Linked DNA regions of Homo sapiens: region 1 is linked to region 2. Evidence: fine-mapped expression QTL. A gene starts in region 2. The other region holds a variant in brackets. All regions are shown on one strand. Distances are between the middles of the regions.

What was found. PIP is the estimated chance that this variant, and not a neighbour inherited with it, causes the effect.
Region 1: its variant is fine-mapped to the expression of LINC02568 in minor salivary gland (GTEx, PIP 0.91).

The regions. Positions count from the first base shown.
Region 1 is chr15:63,344,512-63,349,887 of GRCh38, reverse strand. CA12 (carbonic anhydrase 12) reads left to right here. Exons shown (of 11, transcript NM_001218.5): 3 at 3,179-3,358; 4 at 4,269-4,411. Among named protein-coding and RNA genes, the nearest start is that of CA12, 35 kb to the left of the region's middle. RefSeq lists a cis regulatory region at 3,450, an enhancer at 3,366-3,535 and a silencer at 4,291-4,478. The variant A/G (reference allele first, on the strand shown) is at 2,671.
Region 2 is chr15:63,386,985-63,392,360 of GRCh38, reverse strand. LINC02568 (long intergenic non-protein coding RNA 2568) reads right to left here and starts at 2,131. Exons shown (of 7, transcript NR_120375.1): 1 at 2,100-2,131.

The DNA.
Region 1 (5,376 bases), 42 kb after region 2:
AACAAGCATGAAACAGGTGTTGAGAGTTCAGCTTAGTAAACATGTGAGGGCCCACTCTGTGCCAGGCACTGTGGGAAGTGCAGCGATGGATGAGCCGTGGTCCTTGTCTTCAAGGACAGCGTGGGGAAGCCAGGAAATTCCAGGTGCACAAAATCTCCTGGATAAATACTGAAGGACACATAAGTCCTGTGACCCAAGCAAAGTAACTGTTACTTAGCCAAAGTCAAACTTCCGGCAAATCTCTTAAATCTCTATTTTTCACCCATAAAATGGTGCAATTCTGCCTTGCTTACCCCGTAAGGTTATAGAGTTATAAGGATCAAAGCTACTACAATATAATAACAATGAGGAGGAGGAGGAGGAGGCGAAGACAAGGCTTTCTTGACCTTGCTGACCTACAGACCTGTGACTGGTGCCCAAGGACGAACTCCGCTGTGGATGGCAGCCAGGACCAGGGCAGGTTCCTGATGCAGATGGCTGTCTGATCCCAGCCAGTCCTGGAGCACCGGTGCCCTGTGCCCTCATTCCCGAAGCTGGTTCCCCTGGGCACCTTGTCACATGCCCAGTAGCTGCCTTGACATGAGCAACCTTTCTGACTCATTCAAATTTGCCTGACAGATGGAGAAGGTGCTTAGTCCTAGTATTCTTAATAAATATCAGAGCTTAAGAGCCAGAAGGAACCTTCCAGAACATAGCTTCCACACACATCCCATCCCCACCACTACGCCCACCACCCCCACCATTTGCACGAAGGGCAATGGAGGCTCCAGCAGGGAACATAACCCACTGAAGTGTTGGGACAGCTGATGCTGGAATCTCATTCTCTGGACTCCCCTGGTCCAACATAGCTGCTTCTCTTTCCAAGACAGGTTTTGCCAACACCAACTCTACTGCCTTTAATATCCTTAGTCTTTCCTGCCCCCCAAATACCTTATTTGGTCCTAACTTCCAATAAAGCGTATTTAGAGCAAGAGAAAAAGGAAACATTCCCCAAGTCACATTTTCCCAAGCCCTCTGTTCTTTTTCACTCTTTGGGAAAATGTTTCCTAAATGCCCATGGGGGCACGTGACCCTACTTATAATATGGGTTCACAGAGACGAAGATGAGGGGTCCCTATCTTCACGAGGCTCTCGTTTAGCTATCAGTAAAATGCCCTCTTGATGAAACCTTTTTGAACCTCCACTGTGGGAAAAGAAAACCCTTCTAATCCAGTTCCCTTTAGTCATGTGTGCAAAGAGAAAGCTTCTCAATGATGCATCTCTTTACTTCCTGAGTTTTTTGCATTCATGCCTGGCTGGCAGCTTCCGCCCTGCTGGCTGTGGGCCCAGGCAGTATTGTGAGCACAGAAAAGGCTGGCAGCCTCACTTAGGGAGTCTTACCCTGTGCTGTGTCTCTTCCTGACCCTGGGGTTCTACATGAGGCCTCACGGTTGCTTCATTCTGCTCCCCGCTGCCCCTAAAGCATTCGGTTTGGCCCCCAGCTGAATAATTGTCTTACTCCAGTTTGGCCCTGGAGTGCCTGCTTTGATATCCTCCAGCCTCCCTCTTCCCTAGTCACCATCTTGGTGTAGTTGAGTTATTTTGAGGCCTTGAAAATAAGAATAGTAGAGCTCAGCGGAGACTCTGCCATGCCCAAGTGAGAAGACTGGTGTCCAGTGAAAGGTTGGACTGGAGATTCTGCAATTCCGTCATGCTGTAACATTTCTGAAAATGCATAGCCTAAGGTTGACAGCCTGAAAAATCAGTAGGGTTCCGATGTGTGTGTCCGGACCTAGAAGTAAGAACTAACTAAGCCTGGGACCAACGCCTCATAGCATTTGAAATGAACCTGGGTACCAAGTATCACTTCGGATTCTTCCCACTCTCAGATACGGTCCCCTAGTTAGAGAGCACGATGTAGGGGGTTGGGATTCTGTGGGGCCAATATAACATTTACACCCTTGTGAAACAGTGCAGGGGTCTACAGAAGAATTCCCAGAAGAGGTGGTGTTCCTTTCCCCTTTTCTCTATTTACCCACCTTCCTTGTGTTGAAATACTGATGAACGGACCCCCAGATGGCAAAGCTTGATCCCCAGCTCTGATAGAGCCCACAGGACACCCTGGGTCTACCCTAACGAGCCATGACATGCCAATTCTTTGCTTTTCTGGAGAAACCTTGGCCTGAAAGTCTGTTTAATTACCGTGGAGATAATCTTTTAAACATAGATTTACATTCTTTAAAGACTTTTTCCCTGTGGGAGTAGGAAAGTTCATCTGCACATAGCATGTTTATTTTCATTTCCAGGGGAGGAACTGCTATCTGGTAGTTAGCAAGAAGCTTGAGCCCTGGAGGAATTTCTTTTTTTAAAGTCTGTTCCTCTTCACTGATAGTGTGTCAATTATATTGTAATAATTAGTTTATAGTGTGGTCATATTTTTTTCCAGCTTAAACTCTGCACTTCACTCTGTGATTCCAGGCCTATAATTATTTAACATTTGTCAATCATCCCTATCAGATTGGGTTCTATAGTTACTCTAAATGTGGGTATCAAGAGTCAATGTCCTCAGGGGTTTCTCTTCAGGAAGGTCATACTTGCAAAGCCAGCAGCCACAAAGACCTATTTAGGTTGGTGCAAAAGCAGTTGTGGTTTTTGCCTGAAAGGAATGGCAAAAACCGCAATTATTTTTGC[A/G]CCAAGATAATACTTGGCACTGTGGTCAGTAAGACACTAATTTTTCCCACCTGGGGTGGCCCCGCAGATTTGCTAAATTCTTCCCCGCTAGAATGCCAGCTTGGATGAGCAGGGGCTCTATTGTATTCAACCTGGCAGCCCCAAGACCCAGAGTAATTCCTGGCTCATAATAGGTACTGGCTAAGCAGATGCTGAATTGCTGAAAGTCAACAGGTCTTGACGTGTGTGTCAAACAGGAACAATGTACAAAATAAAGCAGAGTTCGGTGGCCTTCTGGCTCTGGCCTGTGCAGCCCTAGTCCTTCTTTCCCCACATCACTTAAGAGCAGGTGGTCCTGAGTGGTTGCTGGACCTGATTCTGGAGGCCAAGACTCTGAGCCTTGAAGATTTACCTCCGGGGATTCAGAAAAGAGGAGAAAAGGAGTAATTGTATTGAACAGAGAATTAGAAGATAAGGAAAATCCCTTTGTGAGAAACTCTAAATCTTGAGCATGGATCTCTGTGTCCAGGTCCTGATGGGGAGAATAGCTGGTCCAAGAAGTACCCGTCGTGTGGGGGCCTGCTGCAGTCCCCCATAGACCTGCACAGTGACATCCTCCAGTATGACGCCAGCCTCACGCCCCTCGAGTTCCAAGGCTACAATCTGTCTGCCAACAAGCAGTTTCTCCTGACCAACAATGGCCATTCAGGTGAGGGAGAGGCCTTGGAGACCTGAGGGGTATGTCTGAGTCTCCCTCAGCTGCCAGGCCTGTCCTTTTCCATCTGGCAGGGAGGTGTTCCGTGGAAGCATCCAGGAGGAGGGGTGGGGCGGGGCGGGGGTGTCTTTGAGAGATTCCAGGAGCACTCTCTCCAGGGGATGCTGGAGGCTCTGGGCTCTGAGGATCCTGCCAGGGCCGCACTTCCCAGAAGAAGCACATCTCTCAGGATGGGGCAGGAGACCGGCCTGAGCACTGTAGTTCATTGGCTGTGCAGCTGGAGTGAATTCTGGACCATAAACGATTCAAGGAACCACACAGTTTGGCGGGGGGTGCCCAGGCTTTGGAGTCAGACCAACCTGGATTTGAACTCTGGCTTGACTGCTTACGAGCCATGAGAATCTAGGTGAGAATTTTAGTCTCCTTGAGCTTCCATCTGGAAATGGACATATTGATGGATACCGTGAAGACTGGAGATTATGTACGTTGGGGTCTGGCATACAGAGTGAAGTAAATGCTTCATAAATAGCAGTTATCGTTGCTGTTGCTATATAATTCTAAAGCTTGGAAGGTACTTCACTAAAGGTGTCTGATCCATCAATATGTAAATAAACACCCATCCGTTGGTCTAGTGTTAGCGTTTCTGGCATCACTTTCCAAGGTGAACCAAGAAGGTGCTGGTGCCACTGGAGTTGCTTTGGGGAAAAGGGAACATTCTCAGGGAAAGAGCCCAGGTGTCTGACCTTTAGGCTGCATCTCTGCTCCGCACCTCACTCCATCCACCTGCCTCTCTCTGGGCTCCAGGGGGTGGCAGCAGGGGTGGAGGGAGCATTGCCTACCTGACTGCTCTCTGGCAGTGCACAGCTGGCCGGGGCTCTGAAGGCTGCTCCTCCACTCCCCGCAGTGAAGCTGAACCTGCCCTCGGACATGCACATCCAGGGCCTCCAGTCTCGCTACAGTGCCACGCAGCTGCACCTGCACTGGGGGAACCCGAATGACCCGCACGGCTCTGAGCACACCGTCAGCGGACAGCACTTCGCCGCCGAGGTAAGTAGGGCTGCCAGTCTGGCAGAGGCTGCTCTGCAGTGGGTGGTGTGGCACCTTCTCGACCTGGCTGCTGTGCAGATAACACCAGAGCATGGGACAGGCTGCCTTCAGGCTCTCTGCCCCACCTCTGGCCCTGGCACAAGGGGCGCAGCCACTCCACTAGCCTGTAGCTCATCTGCACTGTCCTGGTCCCTTTCTTCTCCTGAACATGCTAAGTTTGTCCCTGTGTCTTTTACTGAGTGATGCTGCTGGGGAGGCAGTATTCCCAGGGTGGCCCAGTGGGACATACATGCCCTTCTTTTAGACATTGCCTTCCTATCTGTGCAGATAAAAATCTCCTGCTGACTCACACTGGGCTCACTGCTCCCCCAAACTTCTCAGCCTTTCTTCATATGTCATGCTGTTTGCATCATTTTGATGCTATCTTTCCCTCTCTGGGCATGGGTTGTGTTTAGAACATGGGGACATGGGTCTAGGGCCACCCTTCTACCTGGCCACAAGTCTAGGGGTACCTGGCAGTCTAATGTGCAGGGCATCACGGCAAGCAGACTCACTAGGGACAAGATGTCAGCCAGCACAGCATCGTGTCATGTTGCCTTGAGAAGCTACTCCGAAATGCCAAAAGAAAATTAGAAGACGGGCAGAGCATTTGTCCTATGCAATTGCAGGATGGGGTGGGGCAAGGAGGGGGTTGAGATGCTCCATTTTGGCACTCCAATAGCCCTGAACTGGGGGTGTGGCTCTGAATATTTACAGGGAAATACAAGCAGATAAATGCTGCTGACTGATCAGCCAGGGGAGTCCGTGGTAAATAGAGACCATTCCCCTCCAGTCATAACTGCTGAACTGCTTAATGTTTCAGACTAATCATAGGTCTACTTGCAAGCATGGAAGGGATAGGATCTGGTTCAATAGGATGGTACCACTGGAGGTTCACATATTTCAGAGCGGCCCTTCCCTGAAGC
Region 2 (5,376 bases):
ACTTTCAGAGGCTGAGGTAGGAGATCTCTTGAGCTCAGGAGATCAAGGCTGCGGTGAGGTATGATCATGCCACTGCACTCTACCCTGGGTAACAGAGTGAGATCCTGTCTTAAAAAAAAAAAAAAGAGAAGAGAGCAAAAGAGAGCCAGGAGTGAGTGGGAGGAGGATGGTTGGCAGCTGCTGGAAGTGGGACAAGGAGTTAAATGTCCTTTGTGTCCAGCTCCCACAACTCCCCCACCTTTCCCTTGGTCTTGATCATGGCTTTTGATCTCTTTTGGGAGCTCCAAGGTGCAGAAGCTTCTTCAGAGAGTCTGCTGATGAAGCACTGTTCAGCATGTGGATCTAGAATGAAGCCTCCTTGACCGCCGCTATGGCAGCTTCTGCTCTTGGCTATGGGCTTGGACCCATTCTAGTGGGCTCCCTTCCCCAGCATGTCTGGCCCTGTGGGTATACTCGCCTCCTGTTATTGTCCCCGTTAAGCCATCAAGCCACTGACTTACCAACAGTCTACCTATTGTCATATGTATCTGGATCCTTCAAGTTGGAGCTTTGCTGCTCTTCTAGGAGTTCCCTGAACTTCTAGAGGAAGTCACTTAAGAAATTTGACTCCCTGTTTTAGATCACTAATCTTTCCGGGCTTCATGACTTCTTGGAACTTGTCTTAAGATTTTATCAATGTTAAAATAATTAAGACTATGTAGAAATGTTGGAAAGTGTTTATAATCCAATGTTAGTTTTTAAAAAAGTAGTATATACAATAGGGTATCTTTTCTCCATAGTAACCAGGTATATTTCTTTGCTGACATGGACAAGAAGAAGGGAACATGTAAGAATGAAGAGTCATTATCTGGTAGGTTGGATTATCACTTTTTTTTTTCTTTTAAAAGTTCCCTGTTAATAACTCTTTATAAAAATCACTTGGCTGAGATGTTTCCCTGTTTCAGTTCAATGTTTAAAGTTATGTTTCCAGGCTGAGTGCAGTGGCTCATGCCTGTAATCCCAACACTTTGGGAGGCCGAGGCAGGTGGATCGCTGGGGGCCAGGAGTTCGAGGCTAGAATTTGAGGCCAGCCAGGCCAACATGGCAAAATCCCCATCTCTACTAAAAATACAAAAATTAGCTGGGCGTGATGGCAAGCACCTGTAATCCTAGCTACTTGGGAGGCTGAGGCATGAGAATCAGTTGAACCTGGGAGGCAGAGGTTGCAGTGAGCTGAGATCGTGCCACTACACTCCAGCCTGGGTGACAGAGCCAGACTCAGACTCAAAAAAAAAAAAAAAAAAGTTCTGTTTCCAGTCTTGGCCAGACATGCTTTGCCCAGCATCAGACTCTGGGTGGAATCTTCACAAAAGCACTATGCTGCTCATCGCCCTGGAAGAGGCCACAGAGTTATCTTTCATTTCCCTGCACCTTCCTTCTTGTTGGGACAATTGCAGCAAGTTAGCACTGCTCCTTCCATAACTTTTCTGTGCCCTTTCCCCCAGTTTTTAGCAGTTCCCTTCTGCTGACGGCTAGTTATATAAGACCTATTATGATGGGACTTCTCTCATTCACTGCCTCTGAATTGACTTCTTTCCTACGAACTGGAATATCTCAGGGGTGATATGAACCCAGGGAGCCTTCTTATCACAGACAGGTCTGATTCCCCCACTAAAAACAAACATCTCTACAGTTACAAGCACCAATACACTTTGTAATTATGGACTATGATGTCGTTCCTAAACGTCTCAAAATAATTTTACAAATATTCACTGGGATTAAGTGGCATAATCCCTATCATAAAAATGGAGTTATGGAGGTATTTTTCCTTCTCCACTGTCCTCAGGGGAAACAGAATTTCTAAAGAGAAGCCAAGTTTCTGGGGTTTGAACTTTCTGATTCTTTGAACATTCTTTAAGAACTCCAACTATATCTTGCTATCATTTCTACTTTCCACAAAATCCTGGACAGTAAAGAAAACAGAGACATGTAAGATCAAAAAGTTTTGCATAGCTGTGTCAAAAAACAGAGATGCTAGCATAAATAATCCAGTTTTAATCACAGTAAAAGGAGCCCCAAACTCTTATTTCAAGTGGGGCAGGCATAAAGAAGTAACTCACCAGCTAAGATTTCTTTATGCGTCTCAGCAGTCTTGCCACGCTGTGTCTTCTTGGGGAAGTGTCTCTAGTTTGCTAGCTGAATTGCCGTGGGTGAGAACTATGAAGCCTTGGCTGACTACCTGCTCTGCCGGCCACCAGATACACCTGAGCCCTTTCTCAGTGCTTGAGAGGAAGTTGGATCCCTGCCAGGGCTGGCTTCTGGCCAGAGAGGCAACTCAGATCAATTGGTCTACTGGGAAGCTTGCTGACTTTCACCTGTCCAAGCTACAAAGCCATCAGTGTTAACTGCACTAGGCTTCCAGCCCACTGAGCTCTTTGTCAGGCACTAGAGCCTAAACAAGGTGGCCTGGCTCAGTCTACAGACTCCAGCTGGAAGAGAAGCACAATTGTGCTGCATGCTCCTAGTACCCTACACCCAGTGGAGATGAATGCAAACTAAAATGTAGGCAACTGGGTGTTGCTTGTCAGTTTTGTTTGGAAGCACCTGAAATAAAGGAGTCAGCTCATGAATTCCTGCAATGGTAGAGAGCTTGAGTGCCCAAGCAAGAGGAAATTACCAATAATTTTAATAGTATGTGGCATCTCTGAGCTCAGGAATACCTTCTAGCTACAAAATTCCAGTGATCAGGCATTTCCTGTGGAAAAGAGGTTCTAAGCCTACTTGTTTAGAAGGCTTCAACTTATTTCAGTAATAAGACTGGGTTTGTTATGACCAAAGTTACATTCTATGAGAGGCCAATGTGTGGGGGAAAGGGATATCTGGAAATCTCTACTCGTTCTTCCCTGAGGGTTCATGGAAGTTGATGGAGTTGCCCAAACCAGGGTTGGAACTTTGGGAGAAGCAGCCCCACTTCATCCAGTAAGGATGTTTCCACAGAGGACAAAGATCATTGACATAGTACTCATTATGTGCCGCCGTGCTAAGTTCTTCATATGCCTAGCTGATTAAATGTATTCCTCCCTTTCTCCCTTTGGGGTATACTTACTCTAGGACCCTCATCTCTATTTTTCTCTTTCTCTTCTTCTTTTTTTTTTTTTGAGATGGAGTTTCACTCTTGTTGCCCAGCTTGGAGTGCAATGGTGTGATCTCAGCTCACTGCAGCCTACACCTCCCGGGTTTAAGCAATTCTCCCATCTCAACTTTCTGAGTAGCTGGGATTACAGGCATGCGCCACCACGCCTGGCTAATTTTTGCATTTTTAGTAGAGATGGGGTTTCACCATGTTGGCCATGCTGGTCTCGAACTCCTGACCTCAGGTGATCCGCCCGCCTCAGCTTCCCAAAGTGCTGGGATTACAGGCATGAGCCACCGTGCCTGGCTGGACTCTCATCCCTTTAACCAGGAAGAAATCAAGATTCAAAGAGGTTGAATGACTGGCCCAGAGTCACACAGGGTGGTGAATGGTGGAGTTTCAAAACCCAGGTTCGTATGATGCCAAAGCTCTGCCCCCTATACCATTCTGCCTGCCTGACTCCGAACGGAAGTTGTCAGATTTGATATTAGCACTACTCACGTCAGGCTGGCACTTGTGAGCTTGCTGGAATGTGGCCTGTGAATACACTATGGTTTAGAAGACGGGTAGGAGAGGACAGTGCTTCAGACTGAGAACAAGAAGAACAGGAAGGATATGGACCAAATCCCTGAGGCTAGAGGAGAGTGGGTTCCCCAGCAGGTGTGAAAAATGAGAAGGCTGTGAGAAACCTTAAGCTATTACAGTCTAACTATATCTCCTAAATGTCTGAGTGTCAGCTAACCATGACATTGTGAATAATGCACCTGGAAAGAGGTGACACTATTGCACCAAGGTTTACTTCACGTAAAATGCTAAGTTTCCCCATGCATAGAAATTTGAATTATTATGATGTTTAAATTAATCACACAGAGTGCTTTATAAAAGTCTCAGTGAAGAGCTGTTATTCCCCACTCAACAGAAGTAGGAGCTGAAGGACTCAGGGATCAAGTAACCAGACAAGAGTCATCATGGTAACTGGTGTCAGGTATGCAGTGAGAATTTACAATCCCTTGTTGGAATCCAGTTTTTATTTTCTTAGATTAGTAAACCAAAGCTGAGATCAAACACACTTCCTTTCTTGTGAAGTCCACTCTTAGGAGTGACATCTTATGTACGACAAATGTCGTTATTTATTTCTTCCCAAAGTGCTCTCACATATACGGCCTCATCCCACTGCCAACCCTGTGTGGAGTTAGACATTCTTATTTCGACTTACAGATTAGAAAACAGAAGCAGAAACACGGCAAGGGACTTGCTGACATTCCACTGCTGGCTCCTGGCAGAGTCAGAAGCCTGGCATTCTTTCCTCCAGGTCACACTGTCCTCCAACTGATCCCGCCTGAAACTGAGCAGGGCAGCGAGGGTTCACACAGGGGTTACGCCTCCAAGCCATCACCGTGAAAGGGAAGACGCAGATGTGAATAAAACTACAAAACTGGCTATATTTTAAAACACAGACATTGGTACCCAGATCAATGGGTCTATGTGAGTCTTGGCCTAGAGGTTCCCTCAGCCACTGCCCAGTCAAAGGATACAATGTGGACTTTTCCTTCCTTCTTCCCTCCTTCCTCCCTCTTCTCCCTTCCTCCCCCTTCCCTCTCTGCCTCTGTCTTGTCTGGCCTTCCTAAGTCAAAGCAAACCTCGTTAATGTAACAGAAGAGCTATTTGGTATGGCTCACATTCTCCTTCCTTTGCTTGAGACCTACGTCGATTCAAAGCTCTGAGCTCTTCTTTTGGCAAATGTTCTATCCACTGATCACAGAGTATGATACAGGGTCCCTTGGTCCCTCAGACACAGCCATATCCCATGCTGAGCATTATTTGATTGCTACAATCGGTACACGTGCCTCTGATCAACAAACAAACGATCACAGCATCTAGAAAATTGGAGAACCGTAGGCCAGGCATGGTGGCTCATGCTTGTAATCCCAGCACTTTCAGAGGCTGAGGTAGGCAGATCACTTCAGGCCAGGAGTTCAAGACCAGCCTGGCCAACATAGTAAAACCCCATCTCTACCAAAAATACAAAAATTAGTCAGGTGTGGTGGCACACGCCTGTAGTCCCAGCTACTCAGGAGGCTGAGGTAGGAGAATCACTTCAACCTGGGAGGCGGAGGTTGCAGTGAGCAGAGATCACACCACTGCACTGCAGCCTGGGCGACAGAGAAGACTGTCCAAAAAAAAAAAAAAAAAAAAGAAAAGAAAAGAAGGAAAACTGGAGAATCCTCCTCTTAGAGGCACCCAGTAAGAAAACATCTCCATCT